3 linked regions of the Homo sapiens genome follow. The protein of the gene in region 2 interacts with the protein of the main gene of each other region in a pairwise test. Each region holds a gene or a part of one and is shown on either strand. Other genes may lie near its edges.

What was found.
Region 1: the proteins of SLC48A1 (region 2) and LAMP1 interact in binary tests that used the Homo sapiens proteins (3 or more experiments, as listed by UniProt).
Region 3: the proteins of SLC48A1 (region 2) and LDAF1 interact in binary tests that used the Homo sapiens proteins (3 or more experiments, as listed by UniProt).

The regions. Positions count from the first base shown.
Region 1 is NC_000013.11:113,293,213-113,300,342, forward strand, and holds the start of LAMP1 (lysosome-associated membrane glycoprotein 1 precursor), read left to right. Parts: upstream 1-4,026; 5' UTR 4,027-4,222; coding exon 4,223-4,283; intron 4,284-4,426; exon of another isoform or gene 4,427-4,525; intron 4,526-7,130. UniProt on the Homo sapiens protein: Lysosomal membrane glycoprotein which plays an important role in lysosome biogenesis, lysosomal pH regulation, autophagy and cholesterol homeostasis.
Region 2 is NC_000012.12:47,768,912-47,776,244, reverse strand, and holds the start of SLC48A1 (heme transporter HRG1), read right to left. Parts: upstream 3,008-7,333; 5' UTR 2,941-3,007; coding exon 2,805-2,940; intron 1-2,804. UniProt on the Homo sapiens protein: Heme transporter that regulates intracellular heme availability through the endosomal or lysosomal compartment. In macrophages of the reticuloendothelial system, is the heme transporter for heme-iron recycling.
Region 3 is NC_000016.10:21,154,327-21,161,778, reverse strand, and holds the start of LDAF1 (lipid droplet assembly factor 1), read right to left. Parts: upstream 3,106-7,452; 5' UTR 3,033-3,105; intron 2,455-3,032; coding exon of another isoform or gene 2,338-2,454; exon of another isoform or gene 2,320-2,337; intron 802-2,319; exon of another isoform or gene 695-801; 5' UTR 597-694; coding exon 501-596; intron 1-500. Other genes in the region: DNAH3 (dynein axonemal heavy chain 3), read left to right, coding at 2,338-2,454. UniProt on the Homo sapiens protein: Plays an important role in the formation of lipid droplets (LD) which are storage organelles at the center of lipid and energy homeostasis. In association with BSCL2/seipin, defines the sites of LD formation in the endoplasmic reticulum.

The sequences.
Region 1 (7,130 bases), on a different chromosome or scaffold from region 2:
GTGAGCCACTGCGCCTGGCCCAAACCAGGGCTTCTTGATGAAATCATGGATTCCAACTGTGACCTAGAAATGCCCAAGGTGAGTTTAGCCGTAATGTTGGTAACTGGGCTGGACATAGTGGCTCCCATCTATAATCCCAGCATTTTGGGAGGCCGAGGCGGGATGCTCACTTGAGCCCAGGAGTTCACAATAAGCCTGAGCAACATAGCAAACCCTGTCTTTTATACAAAAGTAAAAATAAATTAGCCAGGTGTGACAGTGCGTGCCCGTAGTTGGAGGTGCTTGGGAGGCTGAGGTGGAAGGCTCAGTTGCACCCAGAAGGATGAGGCTGCAGTGTTGGGCAACCCAGCCTGGGCAACACAGTGAGACCCTACCTCTAAAAAACATTTTTTAAGTAGTAACTGAAAGGCGGGTAATAGTGGTAGGCAAGGCGGGGATCATTATATTATTCTACTTTTATTTAAAATATCCTTTAGAATTGTTACAAAAAGACTACTTATCTCAATTTTTACCTATCAACCACTACTTTATTTCAAATACTGAGCCCATGTATCAGCTTCCAAACCTGAACTCTTGTGGCAGAAACTGCAGAAGAAAATTTCAGGAGCCTGTTTCTTGTGCCAAGCGGGAAGCTAGGCCCTGTGGCCTGAGTCATGCAGCACGTTTGCAACTTCAGCTTCTTGGACTGGTTAGGCTGACAGGTGACCACACAGCCTCTTGTTCTTGTTTTGTAAATGACTAGGAGAGACCAGAGACCAGACTTCCCCGCTTCCCATTACTGATCTTTGCTGTGGACCAGCCGCCTCCTTCATTGTCCTGTGCATCTGTCCTAACTCAGACTAGATGGCACGACGACCCCGTGACGTAGTCCGTGTGGAACGCCAAACATACCTTTCCCAATAGGAAAAGACCACCTTGGCTAATCGGAGCACAGTAACTGTGCATTCACCCTCAGAGAGAAAGATGCTGGAATTGTGTTAAGTTTCCCTAAACTTCATCTATAGAAATGATCCCAAACTGCTACATTTCAGAACACCGACTTCTGTTCTTTGGAATCTGTGCTTCCTGGGCGGCCTGTCCTCAAACTTTGCACTTGAATAATCTCTCTTTAAAGTAGATTCTGACTCTTGATTATTTTAGGTTAACAATGTCTTCAGGGAAATATATTCCACACTGAATTCCTAACTTAAAAAACAAAGAAAAGCTATAAAATGTGAAAAAAAAAAAAAAAAAGGTCAGGCGCGGTGGCTCATGCCTGTATTCCCAGCACTTTGGGAAGCCAAGGAGGGTGGATCACTTGAGGTCAGGAGTTCAACAGCCTGGACAACATAGTGAAACCCTGTCTCTACTAAAAACACAAAAATTAGCTTGGCATGGTGGTGCATGCCTGTGATCCCAGCCAATTTTTTAAAAATTGGCCAGGTGTGATGGTGTGCACCGGTAGTCCCATCTACTTAGGACGCTGAGGTGGGAAGGCCGCTTGAGGCTGCAGTGAGCCTTGATTCCAACACTGCACTCCAGCCTGGGAGACAGAGAGAAATCCTGTCACAAAACAAAACAAAACAAAAAAGAAAGAAGGGGGAAGAAAAGAAAAAGGAAAGAATCAGAAAAAGAAGAAAAAAAGAAAAGAAAAGAAGGGAGGGAGGGAGTAGGGCATCACTTTGTCTAAATAATTGTAACCACAAAAAAGTGGAGACAGGTGAAGTAAATAGATGAGTATGGCCAGAGCATGGGGCAGCAGCAGGAAAGGAAAGAACAGATATGTATGGTTTGGACTAGATGAGTGTTTCTGAGCCTTTTTTTGATAAATGCCCTCCCTCCGTTCTGATACACACTTTAGGACACAGTGTGGGAATCATGTCATCTCTGAACCTCCTTCAACCAAGATTTTGTCCAGCATTAGATTCTATTTTTGCATTGTTAAGCAGGTTTTTGTTTTGCACCATAAAACTGTAATATTCAGTATGCTTGTTCAAACACCTCTCCTACTTTCTAAACCCTACTTCTAGCCTCCTTAAGAAGCAGTGGATCAGAGGAGTCCCCGAATTTAAACCTCCAGAGTTTCGCGTAATTGTCTCATTCCACTGCAGGGGAGAAAATATAATTTCTCTTCTTTCTCTCTTTATTAGTTGAGACATTCTCCTGAAAACAAAATTCAGAGCAACAGGAGAAACAAGCAGAAGTTTATTAGCACTTGCTGTACCCATCGTGTGAGAGGCCTCAGTTCAGAAGTATTTCTCTCTCAAGGCATGTTGTGAACAGCACAAGGTCAGACATAACCAGGTCCACACACGTTTATGTCTTTCCACAGGGTGGGAATATATTGATGCTATTTCAATTATAAAAGCCACGAGCTACGAGGAGTTGCCTCGAGACAATTCCCTTCAGTACTACTTGTTAACTTGGTAGAGCCATGGGCAAAGGCTCAAGCCAGTCCACGTGTCAGTCAATACTGCAAACTATACATCATAGTGTACTTAAAATACAAACGCTATGGTTTAAACATTCCCCATCAAACAAAGTAACATTGGACATCAAGAGAAAGAGGATAGGAAAAGGGGTTAATGGATCAATCCAAGGAAAGCAATGACGGGAACAAGGAGTGTATTCCAGCCTGATCCAGACAGAAGTCATTGTCTTCCAAGGAAGTCCTTGATGTGAGCAGATCCTTAGGCAGCAGATGCAGGGTGCTAAGCACAAGTGACAGCAAGGTGGGGTCTATCAAAATGCCAGTGTTGAATTGGTCAAATCCCGCCCTTTTTAAGGTCACAGTCCTCTGGTGAGGACTGATAGTGAGTGCCTGGTCCTGTCTTTATCTGGCTGAGTGCTGTCTCTATTAACTAGGTGCACATCCAGTCCCCGTTGCTATGATGCCTTTTGAAATGTAAGATTAAATCTTTTTCTAAGATGTAGGTACTTATGCGACGGGTGCTTTATACAAAGCAGTAGCGTAGGGGCCTTAATTAAATAGTATTTTAACAAAAGGCCATAAATCCTATATGATGACAAGCCAAAAAACAGAGCATCTTCAGACTTCTAAAATGCAGGAGCCAGGCGCCGTGGCTCAGGGCTGTAATCTCAGCACTTTGGGAGGCCGAGGCGGGTGGATTGCTTGAGGTCAGGAGTTCGAGACCAGCCTGGCCAACTGGTGAAACCCCGTCTCTACTCAACATACAAAATCAGCCGGGCGTGGTGGCGCACGCCTGTAATCCCAGCTACTTGGGAGGCTGAGGCAAGAGAATCGCTTGAACCCGGGAGGCGGAGGTTACAGCGAGCCGAGATCGCGCCACTGCACTCCAGCCTGGGCGACAGAGCGAGACTCCGTCTCAAAAAAAAAAACAAAGTGCTCGACAGGAACTTTCTGTAAGCCAAAGAGTATCGCCATCGCACCTTCACCTTCACCTTGGGCAGCCTGGTGCCGTCTTCCCTCAGCCCGCGATTAACGAGCGGAAGGCCGCACTGACCCATTTCAGATCCCTTATTTCCTTCCTAAAACCACTCAAGAGTTTGGGCACAGTGGCCTCCCTGTGTGAGGAACTTGCTTCCCACTCACCAAAAGACAAACCCTTCGCCCATCCCTGGCCGCGCACCCGGCCGGTCACCCGCGCTGCCACCCACACCACCCTCCTGTCCATAAAGAGCCCGCGTTTGGGACGCCTCGCAGGCTGAAGGGAGGCCTGGGCGTCCGCGATCCGTCTGCCCTTTCTCCCCTCGCGGGCTTCCTCTTTCCTCACTTTCTCCCGCCACTACTCTTCCTCTTCCTTTTCCGCGAACCCAGCCCACTTCCCGTTTCAGGACCTCGGCTCGGCCCCAGTCCCCCGGACCAGGCCGGGTCACGTGGGTCCAGGGTCACGTGCCGCTGCGGGTCACGTGCCGCTGCGGGTCACGTGTCGGCCTGCATCACGCGTGAGGGGGCGCGCGGTGCTGGAAGCTGCCGCACCTGCGGGGAGCCGAGCCGCCGGCGCTCGACGCGCGCGCTCTCGCGAGACCCGCGGGATCACGTGACGCCCGGGCGCGGCGCAGCTCACGTGACAAGCGCTGCCGGCCGCGGTGTCTTCTTCGTGCCGGCGTCGCAGTGGCCGGGCCTCTTGCGTCTGGTAACGCCGCTGTCTCTAACGCCAGCCCTTGGCGCCCGCGCCCCGCCACCGCAGCGCCCGGCAGTCCGCGGCCCAACCGCCGCCCGCGCCCCCGCTCCCCGCACCGTACCCGGCCGCCTCGCGCCATGGCGGCCCCCGGCAGCGCCCGGCGACCCCTGCTGCTGCTACTGCTGTTGCTGCTGCTCGGTGAGGGGGTCGAGGCGGGGCCTGGGAGCGGCGGGACCGGGCGGAGCCGAGGTCCCTGGGTCTTGAGGGCGGGGGACTGCCGGGTCGTTGTCCCGCGGGTCGCCCCGCACCCACTGCTCCTGGTCCCGGCCGGCTCTGCCCGCGGGCGGGTGTTTCTCTCGGGGTCGTAGGGTCGGAGCGGAGCTCAATGGCAGGTGCTTGGGGGACCAGGAGGTCTCATCCCAGGACCTGGCTCCTCTAAGGTCTGTCTCACTGAACTCAGTTTTTCTGTGGTGGTGAGTGCGAAAGGGAACTTCCGATGGCTTGCTCGGCGGTCTGGTGCTTTCAGGTCGTTAAGTTTCCTGGCAAGTTGAGGCGGTGAGATCTAGACGAGGCTGCGCCGCCGAAGGTGGCAGGGACGTCTGTGGTCTCAGCTCCCGGGTGGGTGACCTAGATCAAGCTCTTCCCAACATGGATTTCACCCAGGACAGGGAGAAGCCGGTGCGAGCATTCCCCACCTTTGTACTTGAACCTTTCTCCTCTTTCAGCGGTGTGGAGGAGATGCGAGTGTATTTATGTTATTGTGAATTCACATGTATGTTAAAATAATTTTTAAAGTTATCTTTGGGATTTCACAAGATTCCGTAGTAGACAAGATGAGGGAAAGCTGGCCTCAGACTCACGGTGGCAATGTTCATGTCTAGTAAGTAGTTTAAAGAGCGCCGTTCCTGTAGGCCGAAATGCGGGACCAGGGAACACGTGGGGAAGCACCCTTCTCTTCTGTCAGTTTATAGAGCTCAGATGGGCAGTAGGTGCTCAATATTGTATTGACTAGTGAATTTCGTTCTCATTTATTGTCTTAATAAGAGGATGTGTGCTGTCTCTTTAAGACAGTCCGGATTGCCCCCCGCCAACACTATTCTTTCACCTCCTCCCCCCGCCGCCCTCCCCCGTAATATGAGAAGATTATCTTAAATGCCAGGATCTGAAAGGTGATGTAGAATCAAGCTGGGGGAGTGTGTGTGAGTTAAGTAGATATAGAAATACACTCCTGTACACATCTGCCTTGACTTCTTTAAATCCCTCAGTCCCATCCAGCTGTAAAACTCTGTTACTGTGAGTGAATGGATCTTGGCTTCCCTTTTTTGTTTTGCCTGTTGTGTAAAATGAATTCTTTGAACTGCCTGAATAGCCACAGAGATGAACTTATTCCAATAGTAAGCCTGAAGCCTTGCTCAGCTCCTGCGACAGGGTCAGGTGTAGTTAATGAAAGGAGTTGCAGAAACAAGTTTTGTCATGTCACAGCAACTGCATTGTTCTTTGTTACAGATGCTCACAAGCCTCATAACTTTGATGTTTTGTTTCATGTTTTAAAAACTCACTTCAGGCCGGGAGCAGTGGCTCACGCCTTTAATCCCAACACTTTGGGTGGCCGAGGCAGATGGATCATGGCGTCAGGAGTTCGAGACCAGCCTGGCCAATATGGCGAAACCCGGTCTCTACAAAAATACAAAAATTAGCTGGGCATGGTGGCGCACGCCTGTAATCCCAGCTACTTGGTAGGCTGAGGCAGAAGAATTGCTTGAACCCGGGAAGCAGAGGTTGCAGTGAGCTGAGATCAAGCCACTGCACTCCAGCCTGGGCAACTGAGGGAGACTCCGTCTCAAAACAAAAAAAAAATTAACTTTAAAAATGAAGAGAAAAAATCCATAACTCCCTAATATTGTGATTGGAATATTGCTTGTGTAATCAGTCTTCTAAGATCTGTTCCATTATATCTTTTATGTTTACAATCTTAACTTTTTTTTTTTGAGGCGGAGTTGCTCTGTGCCCAGGCTGGAGTGCAGTGGCACAACCTCGGCTCACTACAACTTCTGCCTCCTGGGTTCGAGCAATTCTTCTGCCTCAGCTTCCTGAGTAGCTGGGATTACAGGCACCCGCCACTATGCTAGGCTAATTTATGTATTTTTGGTAGAGACTAGGTTTAACTATGTTGGTTAGACTGGTCTCGATCTCCCGACCTCGTGATCCGCCTCCCTCTGCCTCCCAAAGTGCTGGGAGTACGGGTTTGAGCCACCGTACTTGGCCCAAGAATTTTTTTTTTTTTTTTTTGAGGCAGAGTCTCACTCTGTCACCCAGGCTGGAGTGCAGTGGCGTGATCTCCGTTCACTGCAGCCTCCGCCTCTTGTGTTCAAGCAGTTCTCCTGCCTCAGCCTCCCTAGTAGCTGGGACTACAGGTGCGCGCCACCATGCCTGGCTAATTTTTGTAGTTTTAGTAGAGATGGGGTTTCACCATGCTGGCCAGGCTGGTCTCGAACTGACCTCGTGATCCACCTGCCTCAGACTCCCAAAGTGCTGGGATTACAGCCATGAGCCACCGTGCCTAGCCAAAATCCAACTTTTAAAAAAGGCCTTTTAACAACTTGCATTTAAAGATATTTAAAATGTTTATTTTAATGTGCGATTTCACCAAAAATCCTTTTTTCTTAAAAAAAGAAACTGCTCAATTACAAATTTCCACTATATTAATAATTAGGCATTGTTTAAAGCTACTGTGTTTGAATACTTAGAAAGCTCAAACATGAACTGAAACTTGTCCTGATAGATAGGATTAGCTGTGATTGCGTAATGTGACCCTTTAAACCATTGATGTCAGCAGGATGACCGCCTTACCCTTTCCACTTGAACAACTGTCACTTAGGAGGTTTGAACAATTTTATACTCGGCTGGGTGCAGTGGTTCACGCCTGTAATCTCAGCACTTTGGGAGGCCCAGGTGGGCGGATCAGCTGAAGTCAGGGGTTTGAGACCAGCCTGGCCAATGTGGTGAAACCCCGTCTCTACTAAGAATACAAAAATTAGCCAGGCG
Region 2 (7,333 bases):
TAAGGGTAAGGAAGGCATAGGGTAGGGCGGTGAAAGCATCCCCAGTGGCTGGGCTGGAGGTGAGGAGACAGGAGACACCCGGGGGATCCCACAGGGTAAATGCAGACAAGAAGGACACTGGGCCTAGGTCAGGCCCCTCTATTCCTTCCTAGGAGGAAGACAGTCCTGGAGCCCCAGGGCTCTTGCTCACAGCTCACCTGGGAAAAACATAGAGCTGTTTAGACTTCAGGAGCAACTTTTCTTTTTCTCTTTCCTTGGTCTACTAAACCCAGAGCAAGAGTTTGTGTTTTCCCCCAGGACTCCCACAGCAAAGCCAGACCAGGTAGATCCAACCCACACCTGCCCGCCTCCCCAGGAAAGCCAGTCTTGCTTCTGCCACTGCCTTTCTCCAAAGCCACTTCTTCGAAGGTACCCATCAGGATGGGAGAGGGTATCCCCACCCGTGAACACTCTGCCCACCAGACCCAGGGGCTCCATGACTCTGCTCCAGAAACTGGCACATCCAATCAGTCCTTGCCTGGTCCAACACAGGAGAAGGAGCATGCTGGGGCTACCCTTGGGTGACTCAGCAGATTCTGAGCTATAAAACGCTGAGTCAGAAGTAGGGTGCTCACACGTTAGTTAATCTGCTGACACTTTACCCCCAAAAGAGGAAGAAGGTTGACTGGCCACAGACCCTCTGAGAACTCACTCATGGTGGGGAAGGTCGGAGGCCCAGGCTTGGCAACCCCTCTCCCTGCCACCATCCACCACCACCACTACCAAGCAGTTTTGGCTCTTCCACAGCCACTGTCAAAGATCAGACCATCAGGGAGATACCAGGACCCTACTCCAGCTGGCTGCTGCCCTAGCGAGCTGCTGCCCTAGCGAGCTGCTGCCCTAGCGCCTCTCTCTGAAGGCAGCTCCACAGCTGGCCTGCCTCATAGGCCAAGGGAAGCCTGTGGGGAGGGAGAGAGGGCAGAGTTGGGTCGGAAGAAAACCCCAGGCAACTCCCTAGAGTATAAGAAAGAAGGCCTTTTCCACAGCCCTCTAGGAGGCAGCTGGAGACTCAGGGAGTGGGCAGCACTGCAAGATTTCAGATCTGGAGGGAAGTCAGATGTCTTTTGGGGACATCTCCTCCCACTCCTAATAGATGAGGAAACTGTGGCCCAGGATAGGGTCAAACGGCCAGGTAGGGTTCACCTCCACTTGTACCAGGCCAGACTCAACACAACCAGCTGAGATCCCAGGCTGGCCCTCCCTGCTCATCCTTCTCTTGCCTTCGGTCTTCGCAATGCAATCATAGGGCTCTGACGCCGCCTTCCAGAGGGGAAAGCAACAGGGCCAATAGGAAACAAAAAAGTGGCAGGGAGAAGTGAACCTTGACAAACATGGAGGGTGGCGGGGTGCAGTGGGGAAAGGAACTAGGGCTCTGTAGATAACGCGCAGAGATGGGCCAGTTGTCCTCAGGATCCCACAGGTGGTGAGGCAGCTGGGCAGGCAGAGAACACCCTAGCCAGGGTGCCCATCCCCCCTTCTTGGTGACCCAGTGCTTTGTTGGCATTGTGTAGGGTGGGGCCCTGTATGCCCCTCTTCTAAGGCATTAACCCCACCTCATGCTGCGACTCTACCCAGGGATGGCACTCAGCACTCCCTGTGGCAGTGAGTAAATTAGTTATTTTTAGTTATTCCATTTAGGGTTCTTTTGGCCGAGGATTTTAGTAATGGAATATAATCATCATATGTAAAAGTATTATACGTATTTTCTTCCCAAAGTCCTTTCCCACACATATTATTTCATGTAGCTGTGTAATCCCGGGTAAGCAATTTATTTAACTTCAGGCCTCAGTTTCCTTATCTGTAAAATGGACATAATCGTAAGGCCTACTTCATGAGACTAATGTAAGGATTAAATGAAATAAGGGAAGCAGGTTGCTTAACATAGTGCCTGACACATAGAAAGCATTTTTTAAAATGTTAGAAAGTAGAGATAATATTTTTCATCTTCATACCAATTCTATGGCGCAGAGAGGTTAAACTGCGAGCCCAAATGTGCACAACAAGGAGCACTGGTCAGCCCAGAGCCCCCATCAGCGCACCGATGCTTCCCCTTCCCTCCCAGAAGCACAGAAAGGGCGGCTGGCCTGCAGGATTTGGCAGAGCTTGGCTGAGGAGCCACAGCAGACGGGTAGCAAAAAGGCACCAACATGGGTGGAAAGAGAATGTCCAGTTTCTATGAGATCCCTAACGCCGTCCTCCCTGTGGGTCTCAGCAGAGGGCTCTGCGGGGGAGCCCTCTGGAAGGAGGGAGATGGGCTTCCCCAGCCACCCCTAGCCCTCTTCCTTTCCCACTTCTTCCCTCTCTGCCCTCACCCAGCACCCAGGGAAGGGGCGCCTGGGGGGCAGGGGATCCCTCAGAACAACCGTGTGTGTGTGCGTGTGTGTGTGTGTGTGTGTTTGGGGATAGGAGGCGACCAGCGCCGCGGGCGCGCGGAGGGGACACTGTCGTGGGGCAACTGGGCGGAGGGCGACAGGCAGTGTGCCGTGACAGATAACCCGGGCGGCGCGGCAGGTCTGTGCAGCCGGCAGTGGCGGGCCGTCGGCACCCCCAGGTGGCGCCCGGGCGGGCATCGGGTCTCAGAGGCACCCAGGAATGCCCAGGAGCCCGGGCCCGCGTGGGGCCTGCCGCCGCCAACCGCTGTTTTCGAGTAAACACTCCACCCGCTCCGCGGGGAAGCGCCGCTCGCGGGGAGCGTCCTGGAGCAGCTGACGGCGCCCGCCCCGCAGCCGCGCACCCGCCCCGCGCCGCCCAGCGTCCCGGGGTACCTGCGAGCCCTCCCATGGCCGCGGTCCCCGGCTGTCGGTAGACCACCGTCCAGACGAGGAAGATGGAGAAGCCGGCCACGGAGCTGATGCCGGAGTAGGCGGCGCGGAGGCCGAGCTGCAGCCTGGACGGGGCCATGGGGCTGCGGCGCCGGGCGGGCCGAGGGCGAGCGCGGCCGAGAGTCACAGGTGCAGGGCCCGAAGCCGCCAGCCGGAGCCGCGGGAGCCGCCAGAGCAGCCGGCGCCCCGCGCTCCGCCCCCGGCCCGCCCCCAGCGCCGCCCGCACAGCGCCCTCCCCGGCCGGAGGCCGCCCGCGCCCGGAACCGCAGACGCCACCGCCGCTTTGCGAAGCTGCCGTGTCGTTTGGGGGAATGCTGCTAAAAAGGCGGATTCCTGGGCCCATCCCCAGACCCGCCGTGTCCGGATTGTTGGACCTTGGAAGGGACCGGAAATATGCCTTTATACGAGCGAACCGCGAGGATTAAAAATCTTTACCTCTGAGTACGATGCGTATTTTCGTTTAAAATTAAAATTAAAATTTCTTGTTAAAAATTAATAGGTAAAACTTAAGAAATATTAGAGTACGCTGTGAATAGAATTCCTTCCGCCCGTCCTTCTATCAACCAGGTTCCCTCCCACCATATCGCAGAGGATTTCTCCACACACTAAAGTCTGGGAACCCCTGCGACCATCACCTTCTGACTGCAAACATTCTATACATTCTATCCTCACGCACAGCTCCCCACAAATCCCTACTTTTTTTTTTTTAAACAGAGTCTCACTCTGTTGCCCGGGCAGGAGTACAGTGGCGCCATCATAGCTCCGCATCCTCCAACACCTGGATTCAAGCAATGCTCTCACCTCAGCCTTCCAAGCAGCCAGGACTACAGGTGTGTGCCACCACGCCTGGCTAGTATTTTTTGTTATTTATTTTTTGTAGAGATAGGGTCTCGCTATATTGCCCAGGCTGGTCCCCAACTCCTGGCCTCAAGCTGTCTTCCCACCTCGGCCTCCCAAAGCGCTGGAATTACAGGCTTGAGCCACTGCAACGGACCTCACCTTTCCTTTTATCAGCACAAGCCTTATCCTCCCAAACCCCTCACCCTGACCCTCGGGATCATACCATTGTAAGGAAGAGACAGATCTGTAGCAGGAGGGCACTGAGCTCCCACGTGAGCCCAGCTTCCGGCCGGGAGCTGGAGGGAAAATCCCAGCACAATAACAAGGGCTCTGCCACAGCACTAAGGATCCACATGGGGAGGCCCATCATATACCTGCACAAAACATAACCAATACCCCTTGCATTAGTTTTTTTTGTGTGTGTGCTGCCGTAACAAATTACCACAAATTTACTGATTTAAAATAACACAAACTTATTATTATTTTACAGTTCTGTAGGTCAGGAATCCAAATAATGGTCTCACTGGGCTAAAATCAAGGGGACATCAGGGTTGCCTTGTTTCTGGAGGCTCTAGGGGAAAATCAGTTTCCTTGACTTTTTTTTTTTTTTTGAGACGGAGTCTTGCTCTGTCACCCAGGCTAGAGTGCAGTGGCGTGATCTCAGCTCACTGCAATCTCTGCCTCCTGGGTTCAGGTGATTCTCCTGCATCAGCCTCCCGAGAAGTTGGGATTACACGCTTCCACCACCACACCCAGCTAATTTTTGTATTTTTAGTAAAGATGGGGTTTCACCATGTTGGCCAGGCTGGTCTCGAACTCCTGACCTCAGGTGATCCGCCCACCTCAGCCTCCCAAAGTGCTGGGATTACAGGTGTGAGCCCACCGTGCCCGGCCGCCTTTTCCAGCTTCTAGAGTGAGGCTACCCACATGCCTTAACTCCCTCTTCCTCCTTTTCCCTTCTAAGGACCCCTGTGATTGAGGGGATAGTCCAGGATAATCTCCCCATCGCAAGATCCTTAATTTTATCACATCAGCAAAATAAATCCCTTTGCCGTGGAAGGTGACATATTCATAGGTTCTGGGATGAGGACGTGGACATCTTTGGGGGCCATTATTATCCCACCCACCACACCCCCTCTGGAACATAAACTTCATGAGCAGGGACAGTGCCAGTTTTGTTCACATCAACATCTAAAAGCATGTCTGGCATATAATGACCCCTTAATAAATGTTTGTTGAATAGGTGAGTGTGAGTGAATGAAGGTAAGAATAAAATAAAAACAAAAGCAATTATACACAAGGAATCTAGACAGGGTGTGCTTAACTGCCAAACAAGGGATGTAAACCAGTGTTAAGCACATTTGCCTCACTCTAGAATAATCTGGGAGCTTCTTTAAAAATAAAAAAATAAACCCAGCCCCACCCCTGCCTATTAAATTTTGAATCTTGGAGTGTGTATTTTAATGAGAAGTGATGTCAAGGCTGTGAGCTCAGCAGCAGCCCTCCTTTAGGAGCTGCCGGTGGAGAGTGAGTGCTGGTCCTGTGGAGGAGGGAGCAAGCCCCGTGGTCCGGAGTGCATTTCCATGGATGGCTTCAGAGCTGGCCAGGATGGACAGTACTCCAGGCAGTGGGAACCGCACGTGTGATGGCGCAGAGGGAAGAAATAAAGCGGCCGCTTTGGGAAACTGTAAGTCGTTTGTGGCTGGAATGTCAAGTTTGAAGGTAGAGTAGCGGGTTTGGAGATTAGAAAGGTTCTGAACATAAAGGGCCTTGCATGCTCTGTTAAGAAGGCTGTCCCCCTCCCCTTGGGGCTGGGGGAGAAAACTCACAATTCTGTGTTTTAGAACTATGGCCAGAGTAATAGAGTGAAGGCGAACTGCCTGTGAAACACTAGAAGCAGAGAGATGAGTTGGACAAATTTCACCCCACAGTGCTTTAATTACCAGGTCTTTAAAATGGAGACTGCAGTAACACCTACTTCAAAGTGTTGTGATGAGGAGTGCCTGGAAGAGTGCCTAGCACATGGTAGATACTCAATAAATGTCAGGAAGTAGAATTAGTAGCAGCAGAAGGCTGCCATGGCAAGAGAGGATGAGGGGCTTCAGAGCTGGTCCAGGCAGAAGCAGAGAGAATGGAAGAGACGAAACTGCTTCAAGAGCTATTTCAGCTATCTGAACCTAAAGGTCAGGGGAGAATTCATTAGCTGAGCAGACAGAAGGAGGAGAGCAAAAATATTATGAGTGGACATATTAGGAGTATGGGAGAGCAGTGAGCAAGCTTGCTGTGCTGGAAAGTGAGATTGCGCAAGAAAAGAAAGAGAAATAATTATGTAACAGTAGTACTAGACCAGGTTGTACAAGGCTAAGGCCAGGCTTAAACATTTTTTAAATTGTGGAAACAATGAAGAGCTATTGCAGAGCATTAGACTCAGGTGGGGTCAGAGGCCTAGCTTCACCATTTGCTGTGACCCTGGGCAAGTGCCCCTAACTCACAGATGTCCAATCCAATTGACTTTCTGCCTGGAAGAAAATATTCCATATCTGCACCCTCCATAATGGTGGCCACTAATCACAGGTGGCTATTGAATACTTGATATGTGACTAGTGTGACTGAAGAACTGAATTTTTAATTGTATTTAATTTAAATTAATTTAAATTTAATGTATTTAAGTTTAGTGTATTTAATTTAAATTAATTTAAATTTAATTTAATTAATTTAAGTAGCTGCACATGACTAGTGGCTACTGTGTTAGCACAGCTAGACCCAGGACTCCTGTCCCTCCATCTGTACACAGGGAATGATGATGAAACATCACAGGCTTGTTACAAAGATCGAGATATATTGAGATAATACACTCAAAGTGCTCAACACAGTAATTCAACAAATTATTGCTGCTGCTGTTGAAATTGTTATTGTTTTTATTGAACAGGGATTGCATGACATACGCCAAGTCTTAGGAAGATTAGTTAGACTATAATATCCAGTTAGATTTGATGGGGGAAAATTGTAGAGGATAAAGCATTCACAAGGTTATTTCAGTGGTAAGGTGTGAGAGAATTAAGATCTTATCCAGTGAAAGACCTTGAGAATGGGAAAGAATGGAATGATTGTTGAGCCATAAAGCACATGGGTGTGCACCACTCATACACATCTTCTCATATCAGCTTCCTTCCAAGGTATTCTCAGAGAGTACACTCCCAACCCAGCCCAGGACAGACACTACTACGACCCCTACAAGATGCACAGCCATTCTCCCTGCCTGCGCCAGAAACTACTAGTGCTCCACAACACACACCAACATTTGTGTGTCTCTTTCTGGGCACAGTACCTCCCAAATTTGAACTACACTTCCCAGCTTCCTTGCAGTCAAACGGATGCCATGGGATCAGGTTCTGAACAATGGAATGAAGGCAGAAGCAATGTGCGCCATTTCTAGGCTGGGCTCATTTAAAAATCTTCCATACAACCTGCATTCCCTCTTCCCATTCTGTGACAATTTTAGAGGCCATATGTACCACATAATGGAAAGAACCTAGGCTTGAATGAATGGATGGAGCAGAGCTACCCCTGTCCCCTAGACCCTCACTGGACTATAGAATATGAGTGAGAAGTGTCAGTGGCTTTGTTACAGC
Region 3 (7,452 bases), on a different chromosome or scaffold from region 2:
GGATTCCTAGTGGAACAATGAACTCAAATCTTGAAGTAGGCTTTTGTCTCTCATTTTCAGGGTAACAGATAGGGCAAAATTCACAACAAAACCAAACAAAACCAAAAAAAGGATGATATCTGTTGCACAGACTTCTTTATCCAGCTAAAGAATTGCATTTGCCATTAGTGGCAAATGACTCAATGTTGGCTTAAGGGATGTAATTGGAAGTATTGTGTGCGACTCCCAGAAGTCTCCTTAAATTGTAGGTGGCTTGCACTTCTCTCTTCCCCCCTCCTCAAATCCTGTTGCCTGAAAGATGGATACAATGGCTGATGCTCTTGCAGTCATCTCAGACAAGGAGTTTGAAGGTCACAGCATAGACATGGCAGGGCGGTAAGCCAGAAAGATTCTTGACTTACCTCCAAATTCCTTCTACTGGAGAAAGAAATAACTTTCTATCTTGTTTATGCTAGTGTTATATTGGGATTTTCCATTATACATAGTGATTGGAAACTGACCTTTGAGTTATTCTGGAAGGAGTCTATCAGCAGAGACAGCTTCTTCTGCAGTTCCTGCAAGTCCCTTGAGATACTCTGGGGCTCCTCTTTTGCCATTCTGAAGCTCACTTCAATCTCTTTAGGGATGAATTATCCTACCAGTAAATTCTCCAGTGCAGCCCGCGGTCCAATCTCTCATGTCGCTCTGTCTCTTGCTGTTACCAGAGGAAACAAAAGCCGTTAGTGGTCTTCATCCATCTGGTTCGACGAGAGCTTCTACCATCCTCATACCTTGATGGTGGGCATGCAGACGGAGGGTAACCTGGCAATATTCACAACAATTTCAGATTGCACACACTTCAATCCAGGAATTTATATTCCAGGAACATGATGGAAATAATCCAACAGGTATCTCAAAATGTACTAAAAGGCTGTGCATTGCATCCCTGTTTATAACATATAATGACTAGCAAAACATTGGAAAGTAGCTAACTGTATTTCCATTAGGAGAAAATTGGTTAAATAATGATAAATTCAGTCATTAAAATGATAGTGTGACTGTTTAGTGATGTGAAAAGATGTGTATGATACTTTTAAAAAAAGATGATAAAATGTTAATAGTATTATCTCTGACAGCTTATGTTTATTTTTTAGCTTGACAAAATGCTGAAAATATACAGAAAGCAAGAAAGCTGAACACACTATTTCAAATCTCATTGCCTTTTATTCTCCCTAGAAAGCTTTCCTTGTACAACAGTAGCCTTGACCTGTTTCTCTTCTTTATTACTGTACAGGTTGGCTCCCAATTCCATCATTCCATACATCATCATCTACTTACTTGTGGGTAAGTCTATCCCTGCTAAGGAGAACTGCACCTCGGGGGCAGACCTCACCACAGTAATTATACTCTAACTAAACTGCCTGGAATTTTGAGGGGTGTCCCAATCTCATACAATTTTTACTTATTTTTAATAAAGGCAATTGGTTAAATTAGATATATTTTTTAACCCTTGTTGAGTTTTCAAATATAAAAAAAAAATCATTCTTATTTTATATTTCCCAGAACTGGCTGGACACAGAGATATCTTTTCCATTTCTCCCTTTAAACTGACCTGACCTACAGTACAAATGCTTAAAAGATTGTGTCCACGTGGCCAAAATTAATTGAGAGATCCTCACATTTATTTATCATATAGGGGGTAATTTTATCTACTACTAAGCTGTACAGGGTCTAGTATGCAAATTAAAGCACATTTTAATCATCCCAGCTAGACATCCTCTGCTACTTCCCTTTTGTAAAACAAGAAACCCTTTGGAGGGGAAAGTTGAGGAGGGGACTAATCCCACCACCCCACATTCTCTCTTTGAAGCTGCCTCTGGCGTAGGTCTTGAACTTGGGATGTTCCCAGCACTCAGTTCCCATAATCTCATCTCTGCAGCAAGCAGAAACAAGCGGAGTTCCCCTTACAGGTCTCCTTTGGCCTGGGAGCCTCAAGTGCCACCCAGACCGGTTTGGGGAGTCCGATGAGAGAGTGCGTGGGGCGAATGCCATCGGCCACAGCCTTCAAATGCGTCTACCTGGCCACCAATTCCCAGACCCCCTGGTCACTCACTCCTCGGAGGGGCCTCCCCAGGCACGGAGCTGTCTCCCGAGAAGGGAAAGCGAGAACCCGGCGCGGCCAAGGAGTGCCCCGCCTTCTTCACGCCTGGGGGACTGGGCCAGGCCAACACCAGCTAACCCTTTCCCCTTCCAAGGCTCCAAATAAATCTCCTGGCCCTCCCACCCCCGAACCTCCAGGGGAAAACGGCTACCTCGAAAGTTCAAGCTGGGAGGAGGGGTCACATCTCTGGTTGGGGGATGGGAGCTACAGGGCGCCTCGAGCTCACACTGGCCGCCCCTCCCCATCCGGGCCCAGCCTTTCAGCGTTCAAAAGCCAGGGAGACCCAAGGAGAGGAGGAAGGGAGTGAAATGCAGGTGGAGAGGGGGTCCGCGTCCCAGAAGGCACAGAGACTGAATAATGGGAACTCAGAGGGGAGTCGAGTACTTAGTTATTAATTTGGGGGTAAAGAAGCCCCCTTTGATACTTGCAGATCTCTCTGCAGCGATGGGGAAGGGGACCTCGGTGGAGAAGAGGGGCTGGGTGGTGAGGAAGGCGCCCGTTTTCAATAATCCTAGGGAGGTTTGCCTCGACGTCTTCCCCAGGTTCCCCAGAAAGGGGCACAGTCTCGGGGTGTGGTGGTGCTAGCTACCATTTTACCTAATCTAGTGGTAGTGTGTGTGTGTATGTGTGTGTGTGTTGGGGGGTGGCGGGGTGAGTGTGCATTTAGGGGTGGGGAGGAATCGTGTCTCCTCGTGCGCTCCCAGCCCCGTCCCGGCGACTCATAAGCAGGAGACGCCCCTTACACTAACCCCGGGGCAGAAAGCTACGGGCGTGGGACCCCGATAGCGCGCTCACGCCGTCGCCCCCGCGCTCCTCCTCTGTCCCCGCCCGGCGAGAGGGGTCTAGCCACCCGGGGCACCCGGACCCCCACCCCCAAGCTCCGAGCTCTCACCTGCTCCTGACCGCCGAGCAGCCCCCACCGCGTTTGCAGGCGAAGCGAAGAGAGGCAGGAGGAGGAACAAGAGGAAGAAGGAAAGAGCGTCCCGAGAGGGAGCCAGAGCCGCCTGCCTCCGCCCCCTGGCCCGGGCACCGCCCCTCGGCTCTTCTCCTCTGGGCTCGCCCCGCCCGTGGCCGGAAGGATCCGGCAAAGGCGCGCCAAGGCCCGGCGCCCAAGGCTTTGCAAAGCGCGCTCGCTCCCACTGGCTTTCGGAGCCACTAGAACAAGCCCTGAGAGGTTGACAGCTGAGGAAACTGAGGCTCAGAGAGTGTCCCTTCCCACACGACTGGCTTGGAGTGAGAAAGCTCAGACCACCTTCAAGACAGGCAGACTGGCAGCCGAGAATGAGTTTTCCAAGGGTGTCAGGGTTTCCCCTCCTGTATGCCTAAAACCAGCTGCTCTGGAACGTCTCTGGCGCTCAAGACACACACGTGATGAAGTATCACCCTGGCTGGAAGTTTTTAACCATGACTGCTCAAATGCGAATGTCATAAGCCAGTGAGATCCTTTCAGATGGATTGGATGTCCATTTTACACATGAAAAAGTCCAGGCTGAGAGAGACAAGATAAATCAATCCAAATTCCTCGGTTTGCATGGATCCAAGTCGGAGCAGGAGCCCCTGTTTCCCCTGGCCCCAAATCTGCCCTATAGAGTAAGGTTTCTGAATAGTATGCTATTGACATTTGGGGCGGAATAATTCTGTTTCTGAGCTGTGGATTGTAGAATGTTTAGCAATATCCTAGCCTCTACCCATTAGATGCCAGTTACAAGAACCGCCCCCCCCCACCTCCAGTTGTGTCTCAAAATATTGCCAAATGTCCCCTGGAAGGCCCCATCGTCCCGAGGTGAGAACCACTGCTATAGAGCATGATGGCAACTTACTGTGTGACTAAGTAACCTCTCTGAACCATGGCTTCAACCATAAATTAGAGAGAGGGATAAGCCCAACCATTGGTCTGCTGTTGCACAGTTCTCAGCCACTTTCCAGACAGGGACCTGTGTTGACCGACCTCTCCTCTTTGCCTGTGGCCATAGCAACCTGGAAAATAAGTCTTTAGATAACAAAAAGCTGGCAGGGTGCGGTGGCTCACACCTATAATCCCAGCACTTTGGGAGGCTGAGGTGGGCAGATCACTTGAGGCCAGGAGTTCCAGACCAGCCTGGCCAACATGGTGAAACCCCATCTCTACTAAAAATATAAAAACTAGCCAGGCATGGTGGTGCGCACCTGTAATCCCAGCTACTCGGGAGGCTGAGGCAGAAGTATCGCTTGAACCTGGGAAGTAGAAGTTGCAGTGAAGACACTGCACTCCAGCCTGGGCAACAGAGTGAGACCCTGTCTCAAAAAAAAAAAAAAAAAAAAAGAAGCAATCACAGGGTTGTAGTGAGGACTGGTGCAATAGTGTGGCTGTGGCTGTCGAGAACTTAGCACCTATTGAGGCACAGAGTAGGGGCTCAAAAATATTTGCTTGGGATGATGATTTATGATGATGATCACGACAATGATATGATAAACCACAGAATCCTGCTGTAATTCCACAATAGCAGAAAGAAGAGCTAATGGTGGGGATAGGACAGACAAGAATCCCTAAATTCTTAAGTTTTAGCCAATCTTGTCTGGCGTCATGCACTTTGTTCAGCTGCAAAATGCTGGGTTCCCCACCCAGGAAAAGATTGTGTGTGTGTGTGTGTGTGTGTGTGTGTTTCCTTAGATTACAGCCTTCCAATCATCATTCCCTAAATGGAAGTTGCTTTGGAAAGCTGAGTTAGGGTTTCCACTGGGATTTTTGTTTAAGAGTGCCATCTAGGGGCGTCTCTGTGAATCTTCAAATTCCTTCCACCTCTGGCATTTTTGGCTGGGCCAGCAGAGTTTTGCTTGTCTTTGTGTGATAGATGCTTCCTCCATCACATCATGTGTTCCTCCAGGGCTGGGATCCTAGCATCTCTCCATAGCATCAGGACTTGGCCCTCAAGGAACATGCAGTGGTTGGGTTAAAAAAATCCACGCGCAGCCTCTCCTATGCTTTCCCAATTACTTGCTGCAATGGACTGAATGTCTGTTCCTCTAAAATCCTAACCCCCAATGTGATGGGATTAGGCATGGGGTTTTTGGGAGGTGATTAGGTCATGAAGGTGAAGCCCTCCTAAATGGGATTAGTGCCCTTATAAAAGAGATCCCAGTGGCTCACACCTATAATCCCACCACTTTGGGAGGCCAAGGTGGGTGGATTGCTTGAGTCTAGGAGTTCGAGACCAGCCTGGGCAACATGGCGAAACCTCTTCTCTACTAAAAATACAAAAGTTAGCCGGGCATAGTGGCACATGCCTGTAGTCCCAGCTACATGGGAGGCTGAGGCAGGAGGATCTCTTGAGCCCAGGCAGTGGAGGCTGCAGTGAGCTGAGATTGCACCACTGCACTCTAGCCTGGGCAACAAAGTGAGACCCTGGCTCATTAAAATAAAATAAAATAAAATAATAAAATAAAATAAAATAAAATAAATAAAATAAAATAAAATAAAATAAAATAAAATAAAATAAGAATAACTCCCAGAGAGCTCTCTTACCCTCTTTCCACCATGTGAGGATACAATGAGAAGTTGGCAGCCTGCAACATGGAAGGGGGCCTTCACTGGAACCAGACCACCCTGGCACCCTGATTGTGAACTTCCAGCCTTCAGAGCAGTGAGAAATAAATGTCTCTTGTTTATAAGCCACCCAGACTTTGGTACTTTGCTATAGTAGCCTCCAAGGATTGAAACTGTTGCTCTGCTTAAACAACTATTTTAGGCCTCAGGAATGAGCTGCCAGGAATACCAGCCTCTGAATAAGAAATGTGTGAAATTTTTTTAGCAACAGATTAAGACCCTAAACTCTTGATAACAAGAGGCAGGGGCAACTTGGAACCTTGCTGACCTCTGCTCCCCATGTTGGCAGATTTGGCAAATAAAAACACACGACACTCAATTAAATCTGAATTTCAGGTAAATAATGGGTAACTTTTTAGTACAAGTACAAGTACAGCCCATGTATTGAATGGGACATGCTTATACTAAAACTTTTTTTTTTTTTTTTTTTTTTTGAGACGGAGTCTTGCTCTGTCTCCCAGGCTGGAGTGCAGTGGCGCTATCTCGGCTTACTGCAACCTCCACCTCCTGGGTTCAAATGATTCTCCTGCCAAAGCCTCCGGAGTAGCTGGGATTACAGGCATGTGCCGCCACGCCCAGCTAATTTTTGTATTTTTAGTAGAGACAGGGTTTCACCATGTTGGTCAGGCTGGTCTCAAACTCCTGACTTTGTGATCCGCCTGCCTCGGCCTTCCAAAGTGTTGGGATTACAGGCATGAGCCACTGCTCCCGGCCCTAAAACATTCTTTTACCTGAAAAATTGTTTGACTGAAACTCTAATTTAACTGGGCACCTTCTGTTTTGTCTGGCAGCCCAATTGAGAAACAAGGCCGGGCATGGTGGCTCATGCCTGAATCCCAGCACTTTGGGAGGCGGAGGTGGGCAGATCACTTGAGGTCAGGGGTTCGAGACCAGGCTGGCCAACATGGCAAAACCCCATCTCTACTAAAAATACAAAAATAAGCCAGGTGTGTTAGCACACGCCTGTAATCCCAGTTACTGGGGAGGCTGAGGCAAGAGAATCACTTGAACCCAGGAGGTGGAGGTTACAGTGAGCCGAGATCATACCACTGCACTCCAGCCTGGGCAACAGAGCAAGATTCCATCTCAAAAAAAAAAAAAAAAGAAAGAAAGAAAAAGAAGATTGAGAAACTTGAAGCCTATATCCTTTCTTAAGAATTATCCAACACAAAGTTGTCAGACAACAAACAATTCTGGTACAGGTGAGGTGGCCTGGGGGAAGTCACTTTCACTCTCTTTGGCAGATACTTTATTTTCCACCTTTCCTCAGATTACATGTAGGTTTTCGGTTGAAGCCATGGAACAGATTTCATAACCAAGTTCAAGCTTTCCTGATGACCTAGCTGTGTGACTATGGGCAGGTTAGTTTAATGTATCAGTTTCCTCAATCATAAAACTTGTGAAAATACTGATATTTATATTCTAGGTTGTTGAGAAGATTCAAAGACATGATGTCTACTAAGTGCCTAGCAGCAGTCCCAGGGCATAGTATATGCTCAATAAGCGAAAGCCATTAGTATTGTTTTGATAGTTTTAAACACTAGTAGACTTAAAACACACTAAATTTCAGATGGTAGCATACCTCCTACTCACACACAGGCCATAGGGTCCATTAGCTCCACATCAGGACCATTCTAATTTTTTTTTTTTTGAGACAGAGTCTCGCTGTGTCACACAGGCTGGAGTGCAATGGTGTGATCTCAGCTTACTGCAACCTCCACCTCCTGTG